Linked DNA regions of Homo sapiens. The protein of the gene in region 2 interacts with the protein of the main gene of each other region in a pairwise test. Each region holds a gene or a part of one and is shown on either strand. Other genes may lie near its edges.

What was found.
Region 1: the proteins of COPB1 (region 2) and NUDCD1 interact in binary tests that used the Homo sapiens proteins (3 or more experiments, as listed by UniProt).

The regions. Positions count from the first base shown.
Region 1 is NC_000008.11:109,240,391-109,247,108, forward strand, and holds the end of NUDCD1 (nudC domain-containing protein 1), read right to left. Parts: intron 5,092-6,718; coding exon 4,932-5,091; intron 2,912-4,931; coding exon 2,619-2,911; 3' UTR 529-2,618; downstream 1-528.
Region 2 is NC_000011.10:14,456,972-14,461,820, reverse strand, and holds the end of COPB1 (coatomer subunit beta), read left to right. Parts: intron 1-489; coding exon 490-635; intron 636-1,523; coding exon 1,524-1,613; intron 1,614-3,133; coding exon 3,134-3,289; intron 3,290-3,937; coding exon 3,938-3,997; 3' UTR 3,998-4,309; downstream 4,310-4,849. UniProt on the Homo sapiens protein: The coatomer is a cytosolic protein complex that binds to dilysine motifs and reversibly associates with Golgi non-clathrin-coated vesicles, which further mediate biosynthetic protein transport from the ER, via the Golgi up to the trans Golgi network.

The DNA.
Region 1 (6,718 bases), on a different chromosome or scaffold from region 2:
TCTTCCAGTAATAATCAGTGATAAGTATCAGTTTTGCCTTCTTATATGACTTGCCACACATAAACTTACCATCTGTTCTTTTCTATAGTTAATAACACAAAATATTAGAAATTCCTGTGTAATGATGGTTTAACTTGTTCTGTACAGTCATTTCCCTTTTATGTAGAAATTTGATGAGTATACTTTATTTAAGAGTATTTTTTTTAACATTGTTAACCATTCCTAATTTCTTGACACTCTGATTCTTTTTTCTAACTCTTCCCATTGGCAACTCCTCTACCTGACTCTTGTGGGTAGTCCCCAAGGTTCTAGCCCTGGTCAGACTTCCTTAGCAGGAAAGCAACCACTCTATGCCACCCTCTCCTCTTTTTTTCCCTAAAAAGAAATTTTATCTGAAAATCATTAAAATGTAGATTGTCTCTTTATCCTTAGTAATATATTATCCTTAATACTGAAAAAATCATGCTAAGGTACATAGTTGATGCTTAAATGTGTTAAAAGAGTGAATATTGTTAATGACTCTTAATATGCAAAACACATAAAATACTACTTTATTACTATCATAAATATTTTATAAATTCCTATTTAAAACATGATAAAAATCAACAAAAATACAAGGTACTATATTCTTAGCACTTGTAGTATATATCTCAATGTTCTAAGTATATGTACCTTAGAACATTGTTTAAATGTTTATGGAATCCCTGAAGCATTTCAGGAAAATAGCTTGAAATCACGGCTCTAGACCTATTCATCTTTTAACGTAGGTCAACATGCGACAATATTTAGGATTAATTATCCTGAGAGCTTTCAATTCAACATTAATCATGCAAAAAAATCACATGCACAAAGAATATTGATTACTAAAATTGGCAATATATACATAGTCATGGTTAATTAAGCACCACATTTTTATTATACATTTTTCTTATGTTCCCTAAGAGGATATTATCTTTGGGGAAAATTTTAGAGAAAATTTAGATCTACTTTCCCATCATAAAGATTTTTAATAATTCACTATTTAAATGGTCTTTTGTTTCATGAAGTTTTACAACAATACTAAAAAGTTCTGGAAATATCACTGTTTTGGTTTTTGGTTACTATACAGTTTTCCATCTCTATGATCTCGTGATGTTTGGTATCTAGTCTCTCTTTCCTAATACGAATAGAGTACTATTAGGACTCCAATTGTCAATACCAGTCCTCAGGACCTTTCCTAACTTTCTACCTAGCACCTCAATACTCTCTAGGAAACTGCAATCTGACAAAGGGTTTAGAACATGTATGCAATCCTCATCTTTTTTCCTCCTCTCTGTCATTCATTCGTTCATTAAAATTTAGTTGAGTCAAATACTTGCCCAGACAGGCAAAAGATATGTTAGGAACAAAGCTTTTCTATCTTATATTTCTTATCTTAATCTTCTGCCTCTTAAATGAAGGTCTTAACTTCCTTATTAAAATATAAAATCCAACTTGAGGTTTATATAAGATACATATCTTGAAATGGTATAAAAAGTAATAAAAATTTCCAGGTACATACATACTAAAACAAACCTGGAAAGGTAAGTTTGAAAAAACAAAATTTGTGGCAAGAAACTATAACATATAAACAGGATTATTTTGTTGAAGTTGTTAGAAAAATAAAGAGAGCCACAAGGATAAATTATAATTTGTCCTTGTGTGGTAAGATTGTTCCATCAATGGCCCCCAATGAGTCATACCATCCGCTGTCAGCTTGTGTAGTCCCCTCATTCTGACTCTAGACTTGGCCATGTGATTTGCTTTGTCCAATGGAACATTAGTAAATATGATAGATGTACAGGATCGATAAGCTCTTGCATATTGGAGCTTGCTCTCTTAAGATGTTTTCTCTACTATGGAAAGAAGATTCGTCTAGTCTACTGGAGGCTGAGAGGCCCTGTACAGCAGAGACAGCCAACTCACTGAATCGTGAAAAATAATAAAAGTCCTTGTTTTAAACCACTGAGTTTTGGTGTGGTTTGTTATGCAGTGATGGATAATGTGAAATCTTATCTCTCTTTGTCTATGTCTGTGGCAGAGCAACTGGCTAAAAGTTACATAAAGCTATACTTAATTTGAAAATAATAATAAAGGTCTCTCAGTAAACTTAAAAAATATTAGACCTGCTGTTCTCTAGCATTTCCTCCTCCATGTAGACTCAGTTATTCAATCCACTTAAATACATATGTACAATACTCAACATTTAACTATTATCCTGTACATCTTATAGGTACAGCCTGTAGCAACTAATCAACGAACAGAGTACACAATAAATATTTTTATTTTTAAACACTGAATTGTACATCTTTCATATAAAACATGAGATTCTAGCCTGTTTTAAAAAATAAGTATACTTGCTAGTACTATCTTCACTCTTTTTTTTTTTCAGAAGCCAATGTTCTCTAAATCTGCAGCTTCATTCCACAGCTTTACAGAATCATAATCTCTTGAATATATTTCCAATGTTATTAAAAAATAAAAAATCATACAAGATATATTTAGCACATTAAAACTTAAGAGGTTACAGTATAACTGTCCAGACCTCCAGGTACCACTGAATACTTTTCCAGTACAAAGAGGCCAATATGTTAGAATAATTAATTCTCTGTATTTACTTTTATTAAAAAGAGGTTTTTGGTAGTAAGAACAAATAATCTCTCATTTGTTGCCTGAAATCCTAAAATAGGATCATTGGTTTCTAGGCTTGCTACTTGCTGCTTAGCAACCTGTCCTACTTGCCTGCCTTCCTTTCTGTTGTAAAGTACAGTGGACATGGGAGCAGGCTGACGATAGATGAATACTCGACGAAGGCACTCACAAAGGGCTGCATACGAGTAATTTGGAGCACAGGCAAAAAATTTTTTGTCTCTCTTTGATGCTTGGACATAGCCTGCCAAGAATATGAGACAAACAAAAGAAAAACTATATATTAAACAGAAGGGGAAAAATGATGATTTAACATTTAATATTTTGCAATGTTTATTACAAATTAAAATGCCCAAGTAAAATATATACCATAAGGTATATAATTCTGAATCATTAACGATTAGCCACAATCAGTCTCTCCCATCTGGTACAAAAATACGACTTTAATTCCTAAGGAACAAAACAGATATGGCTTTCTCGCTTCAAAAAAAGCGTAATATAGCTTCATTTAATTTCCACGAATAATTCGAACACTAAAATTCTAAAATCTAAAACACTCAATACATGACAAAATATCTTTAAGTGCCAATTTAATATTTAGCTTCGTGAGTTACGGATAGGGCATCACAGAACCATTTTTTTCCTCTTAAATAAATTGGAAAATGTGTATAGGATACCATCATAAAGTTATTTTAGTTTTCTGTTCATAATGTATCCCTGAATGTACTAGTATTCGTGATGCATTCTCTTATTATCCCTAAAATGTTAGTGATATTTTTATACATCAATACCAACACTGTAACTGGATTTTTTTGTACTTTTAGCCCCCACAAGTAGAATGTTGATCACTATAACTTCAAAAATAATTTCAAGTCTCTAAACTGAAAAAAATCCTTATCTTAATTCATGTACATGTTTAAAAAGTATCTTTTTGGATTAAAACAACATTTATATTCCAAAATATAAATTATGATTTTTAGATAGTGACATGGTTAGCAAATGTTAGGTATTTATGATCATGTAAAATAAGAATATAACATTAATTAAAATTGAGATCTCATCAAACAATGAATAAGCAAAGGAACTACTGAGCACATGCAGATCAATACTGTTTTTAAAAATATTAAGCAGGTTTGAAGCAGGAAAAGTGAAGATTTAGATACCTATTTAAATAGTTTAAAGTAGCTATCCAGGCTAACCTTGACAGAATAATGTATATAATATTTCAAGAGTACATATCTAATATATGTTGATTTAACTTAGAATTAAGCATAGAATTCCCCTATAATAGGGGATTTGGGGATACAAATAGAACATCTGAGCATCTAAAGATGATATGATAGAGCTTTCTTCTGACCAAAGTATAGATAATTAAAAAATAGCATTATAGTAGGGAGGCTAAAAATTATATGGTTAAATTAGTTAACCAAACTTTGTACTTCAGGTCATAAAAATCCATTTGGAGTCTGAACCAGTTTAGCAGCCTACATTATTAACTATAAGGGATAATTAATAAATTTCTTCTACAATTAGGGTTGTGCACATATAGCCATCAAAATACGTAACTTCACTTCTTGCTGCCTGTTTAAAATAACCTTTCAATAAAGCAACAACTGTGGCTAATTCACATAAAAAATTTCTGTCACACAATACTAATGCATTTTGACAGAAAATCAATGATTGCATACGTCTATAATTAAGTAGTTTAAACATTGTCAAGCCCTAATTTTAAAACTGATTTTTTTCCTTTTATCCTACCAAATAAATTTAATTTCTGCTTATCACCGCTTTCCATAAGTATTTTCATTATAATGGCTCTCTTTTGTACTTAATTTTGACAAAAGATGTCTCCTAATGTGCATTACACCTTAGGGGAATTCTATGATGTTTCTGAAGATTACTCTGAAGAAACTTGAACACCAGTTCCATGTAGGGTATTATCAAGCTCCTTGCTCAGACTCCAGTATTATATGGCTTACAGAATTAGAAAAAGCAAATGACTTATTAGAATAATTCAAGTGGTTAGATAACCACTTTCATTTCTATTCTGTGTTGATCTTCTGTACAAGCATAAAAACAGATTAGTCTAAATGTTCCAACAGTGCTAACACTCACAACTAGTACAAGCAAACAAATCATAGCGCAAATCAATCTAAATGTAATCAGGACAGCTCAAATTAAAAAGAAAAAAAAGAAATGAACTTTAAATGAATGATGACTGTATTTCTGATTTCATGGAAAATGTCAAAGAGTTTGCTTTATACCTAAAGCATTGAAAGTTGCGATGTGCTCCCACATATCATCTTGTTTGCTGGAGTGTGGTTGCCAGAGTAGGGCATCAACATCATGGCGCAAACAGAAGCAGGGCATTTCTTTAGGATCCACTATGACAGAGAAAAGGTACTGGTTGCTTCCAAGATTCACCTAAAAAGTGATTTAAAAAAAAATTTACTCAACAACAAATTAATAATAGCAACAATAACAATGGCAGAAGCTGACAGCCAGCATTAAGTGTCAGCAACTGTTTTATACTTTTTATATACTTAATCTGATTGACTCCTCATAATATCCCTGAGATAAATGTGCTACTGTTATGTTCATTTCAAAGCTGAGGAAAGTGATGCACAAGGCATTTAGGTAACTTGTCGATGGTCAGCCTGGCCATAAGTCATGGAGCTGAAATTTGGACCCAGAGTCTATGTTCTTAATCACCACGTGATATACCACCTCTTAATTGTTAGTAAATAGTTTAAAACACGATATAAAGCAGGGGTCCCCAGTCACTGAGCCGCAGACTGGTACCAGTCAGTGGCCTTTTAGGAACTGGGCCGCACAGCAAGAGATGAGCAGCAGGCAAGGGAGCATTACTGCCTGAGCTCCACCTCCTGTCAGATCAGCAGTGGAATTAGATTCTCACAGGAGGGTGAACACTATTGTGAAATGCACATGCAAGGGATCTAGGCTGTCTGCCTTATGAGAATCTAACTAATACCTGATGATCTGAGGTGGAACAGTTTCATCCTGAAACCATCCACCAAGCCCCCACAGGCCCATGGAAAAACTGTCTTCCACAAAACTGGTCCCTGGTGCCAAAAAGGTTGGGGACTGCTGATATAAAGCACCAATTTTATAAGCAGACTATTTTTAGGCCATAGAATACACACATGAAGTTTACTAATGCTAACTTGTAATAATTACCAAGAACAATGACACTACCAGAATTTATGAGCACACTCTCATAACATTTATAACCAGGCATGTTATAAATACTAATCTTAACAACTCGCAAGGCTATTATTATCTTCATTTAAGGGATGAAAGAACAGGCTTGGAGAGTTTGAGTAACTTGTTCTAGGCTAAAGAGAAATATCACAATGCTGGAATTCACACTCAGATGTTTAAAACTATTTACTTAAACGTACTGCTTAATTAAAGTATCAATGTCAATATGTCAATAATGTCAACATTTGTTATTGTAACACATCAATAATTGTTACTGCAATATTGATGCCTAAAGAAATGCATTTTAATACAAAATCATCAAATTGAAACTCACTGAATTTCATCTACAGCAATACTTTTTCTAAATGAAGACATGTTGTAAGGATAGTCTTCTTTATGAGAAATGTTATTATCAGAGTTGAAAATACGAAACAGAATACCAACAAAAATCACATCAAATGTAGAAAATATAAAATATGCACAGTACTTATAAATATGTAATTGATTCTAGGAGTTTGCAAGCAGACTGGAGAACCGTAAAAGATTGGGTTAAAGTAAGAAGTGGAGACCTGACCTGAATTCAACAGGGAAAGCTGTGAAGTGGCTCTCCAGCAAGGGGACCTATTATTGGTAAAGCTGTGACAACACAGGCTATTGGTCACAGGAGAATACAGTGTCAGAGCAACCCATCTTCTGCTCCCCAGCAATGCCAGGGAAATAGGGCTTTTTCGTAGAGCCAGTGCTTGCTCTCTACAAAATAAGGGGAGAAGGCCAGCACACAGAGACCACAGACTATTTCTTTTCTCTCCTTACTCCCGATGATCAGTGG
Region 2 (4,849 bases):
TACTGAGGGATGACTAATCTTGTATCATTAAGTAGTATGGGTCAGCAATATTTATTCAAAAGTATTAGTTAAGTACCTCCTATGGGAACATCGTCCACTTGTATATCTGCTGCAGTGCCTAGTATGCTGCAACTGCTATGTAAGTACTCACTGAATTGAATTATTTGTTTAACCACAAAAAACAAAGTGTGCCTGAGTTCGAATCCTATCCCCACCACTTATCAGTTGTGTGATCTGGAACAACTTACTTAACTTCTCTGCTTTCATTTCCTCATATGTAAGATGGAAAATAATAATACTATCAGAATTGATGGGAGTATTAAACCAGTAATATTTATAAAGCATGTAGAATAGAGCTCTGTACATAATAAGTATTATATAAACAATCTTATTGTTAATAGTGTAGTTCTTTGGATATTTGGATATTAAGATTTTTTAAATTCAAGTTTGCCCCAGTGATTGCGAATCTTTTTGTATATGTAATTGCAGTTTATGATGTCTCTGGAGCAGCAAGTGACAGAAATTGTGTGGTTCTCAGTGATATTCACATCGACATCATGGACTATATCCAGCCTGCAACTTGCACTGATGCAGAATTCCGTCAGATGTGGGCCGAATTTGAATGGGAAAACAAAGTTAGTCCTTGGGAGATTTTCTCATATTCCTTTATCTTTCTTCCTTTTGCCTGCTGTTGAGGAGTCTGCTAATAAAATTAATCTCGCTAAAAAGTGTTTAACATGAAAAGCAAATAGTCTTTCAGTATCTGTTCTTGCAAATTAGCCTTAACTAAAAATCATGTAAGTAGTTTGGTAATTTGCTGTTATAAATTGATTAGAGTAGCAGTTCTATAGCCAATCTGATAGGTTTAGACATTATAGGTAATATTCCATCCCTTCTATGTATGACCAAGAGCTTACCATTTAATCTAGTGCCCGAAAAAGGCTTTACAAAGTTCATGGTCTGTTGAGGAACTTTGTCCCTTTGAGCCTTGACTTTTATTAGAAATATTCTATATGAGGCTGGGCACGGTAGCTCGTGCCTGTAATCCCAGCACTTTGGGAGGCTGAGGCAGGCAGATTGCTCGTGCTCAGGAGTTCTAGACCAGCCTGAGCAAAATGGTGAAACTCCATCTCTACAAAAAATACAAAAATTAGCCCGGTGTGGTAGTCCCAGCTACTCCGGAGACTGAGGTGGGAGGATCACTTGAACATGGGAGGTTGAGGCTGCAGTGAGCTGAAATGACGCACTGCACTCTAGCCTGGGTGACAGAGTGAGACCCTGTCTCAAAAAAAAAAAGAAATATTCTATATGCTTCATATTGAATCTCTGTGAAGTTATCTCTATTGGGAAGTACTGATACCAACCTACAGCTTGTTGGATTTTATAGATGTTATTTAGTTTCTTGGTGTCTACTCTTTCCAACCTAAACAGTTGGAACAAGTTTTTAATATGACATACTGGTGATTCACAGCTTTCTCATAGTAAGATTTATGATCTCCTTGACTTTTTTTTCCTCTCTACAGGTGACAGTTAACACCAACATGGTTGATTTAAATGACTACTTACAGCACATATTAAAGTCAACCAATATGAAATGCCTGACTCCAGAAAAGGTAAAATTTGACTAGGAAATTCAGAAATCTGATGGAATGGTAGAGTAGGTTCCTGGCCTTCCTGTATTTCCTCTAGCACATTTTTGTTATTCAATATGCAGTACCATTCTAGGCTATCTAAAAGATGTTATCCCATAGAATGTTGGAATCTGCTTACCTCTTTCTATTGGACTATACCATCCTACTTTTTCCTAGTGCAGTGACCCAACTGAATAGTCAGATTAATTTTTTTTTTATTTTCTTTTCAATCTTCTCCCCCATTCAGCTAGAGGCACATTCTAAAGTAGTTTATGCTGCACATGGTGGTTCATTCCTGTGATCCTAGCACTTTGAGAGGCTGAGGCGGGCAGATCACTTGAGGTCAGGAGTTTGAGACCAGCCTGGCCAATATGGCGAAACCCCATCTCTACTAAAAATACAAAAATTACCCAGGTGTGGTGGCACGTGCCTGTAATCCCAGCTACTTGGGAGGTTGAGGCAGGAGAATCACCTGAACCCCAGGGGGTGGAGGTTGCAGTGAGCCGAGATCACACCACTGCATTCCAGCGTGGGTGACAGAGTGAAACTCTGTCTCAAAAAGATAAATAAAATCGTTTATTTGTAATACTGGATTAGAAAATGTCCATGAGCTCTTCCGTGGGCTCTGATTGTTGGTTAAAATATATGTGCTCAAATACAGAATCGTTGTTATACTGTGACTTTTTGCTATGTTTGTGTATGTATGAAAAAAACGAGAGAGAAAGAAAAATGAAGCTGGAGCTCTAAGGAACTTTTTTCTTTATGTAAAATTTCTATAATGTTATAATATTCATTTTATAAATAAAATAATGTCTGCTACCAAACAAGTAGGTTTTAATTTATATATTAGTTTATTCAGCATATACTGAGTCCAACAAAAGTAGTCTCTTCCTTCATGGCGCTTAAGGTCTGATATGGGAGGCAGTCAAGCAAGTTAAGTAAACAGAATATATAAATACAAATCGGATTAAGAACTATTTATTTAACATCAGATTTATTGAGGTATAATACACAGTAAAATTCACACTTTTTACATGTATAGTTGAGTTTTGACAAACTCATAAGATTATGTAACCACCACCCTGTATGTAAGTACTGTTTTAAGTGATAAATAACCAATGGGGCTGGGCGTGGTGGCTCACACCTGCAGTCCCAGCATTTTGGGAGGCCGAGGCGGGTGGATCACTTGAGGTCAGGAGTTCAAGACCAGCCTGGCCAACATGGTGAAACCCTGTCTCTACTAAAATTACAAAAATTAGCCAGGTGTGGTGGCGAATGCCTGTAATCCCAGCTACTTGGGAGGCTGAGGCAGGAGAATCGCCTGAACCTGGGAGGAAGGTTGCAGTGAGCCGAGATCACGCCACTGCACTCCAGCTCCAAGCTGGACAACAGAGTGAGACTCTGTCTCAAAAAAAAAAAAAAAAAAGTCACCTATGCTGTTTGGTTTTTGCCTCTATGTAGGTATCTGGTAAAGTAATGAATTTATCACAAATTTTTTCCAGGCCCTTTCTGGTTACTGTGGCTTTATGGCAGCCAACCTTTATGCTCGTTCCATATTTGGTGAAGATGCACTTGCAAATGTCAGCATTGAGAAGCCAATTCACCAGGGACCAGATGCTGCTGTTACCGGCCATATAAGAATTCGTGCAAAGAGCCAGGTAACAGTTCCTTTTTTTTTGAGAGTATCTCTGGACTGACAAAGGGGGGAGGAATTTATGACTTTATTATTTCTATATGTAGTATCTTTTTAGCATTAGATGCATATACACATACAATAATAATATACTCTGAATAGAAGTATAACTTTTCTCATTAAAATTTCTCACCTTTTGGGCCCCTCATTCTGGGATATTTGCCTAAAACCAGATTGATTCCTATGGGGTGTTTGTGAAATGGGTTCTCTAGAATTTTTTGAAAGCCAAGGTGTAAATCTAGTGACTAATTAGCTGGGTGTTGTAGCGCACACCCGGTAATCCCAGCTACTCGGGAGGCTGAGGCAGGAGAATTGCTTGAACCCGGGAGGTGGAGGTTGCAGTGAGCTGAGATTGTGCCATTTCACTCCAACCTGGGTGACAGAATGAGACTTCGTCTCAAAAAAAAAAAAAAAAAAAAAAATCTGGTGACGGCTTGAAAAATCTAGCACTGAAAGGTAATTACCAGTAAAGTTTGGTAAGTCTGTTTGGTATGTCCTTGATTTTATTGTTGATAATGGTGTCATTGAATTGAATTGGGGCTTAATAATATGGAATAACCTACTGATTGTACATAGTTTAAATAATTATAAATATCTTAATTTTTCTTTACAGGGAATGGCCTTAAGTCTTGGAGATAAAATCAACTTGTCACAGAAGAAAACTAGTATATAAAAATAAACAAAAAGTCCTTGAAGCTTTACAGTTAATTTAGGTATGGGCTTACTGGACTCCAACATCTTTTGTACTCTTTCATGCTTATATAGAATCTGAGTTCATGCTGAATACTTTTCAGCCAATAATTTATAGCCTTTCCCTTAAATCAAGATTGAGTTTAAAATTATAGTTTGTCTTTTGTCTTAACAGTTCTGAATGCTGTCCTCAAAGTATATAATGTTTCATGTACCAAGACCCTTTTCACAGTACAATAAACAGATCTATTCATAAATTTTTGTTATTTTATAAATAAATGATTACATAATTTTAGTTATATGGCAATGGATTTCTTTTAGTTGGGTTATAAATTTCTATTATAAATTTAAATTACTGAGTTGTGAATATATGCAGCTTTATTAAGAGAATTTACAAATTCAATGATATAAAATAAGGTAGGCCTTGATTCACTTGGTTGTTTTTTACTTATTTAATATTCCAACATTGCTATCTCTAAAAATGCATTATCATGTTTTGAAGGGATTTGCTCTTGAATTTAGCTCCAGGGAGAAAGTATCAAAATAACTTTTTTTTTTTTTTTTGAGATGGAGTCTGGCTCTGTCACCCAGGCTGGAGTGCAGTGGCGTGATCTTGGCTCACTGCAAGCTCCACCTCCCGGGTTTACACCATTCTCCTGCCTCAGCCTCCCAAGTAGCTGGGACTACAGGTGCCCGCCACCACGCCTGGCTAATTTTTTGTATTTTTAGTAGAGACGGGCTTTCACCATGTTGGCCAGGATGGTCTCGATCTCCTGACCTCGTGATCCGCCCGCCTCAGCCTCCCGGAGTGTTGGGATTACAGGCGTGAGCCACC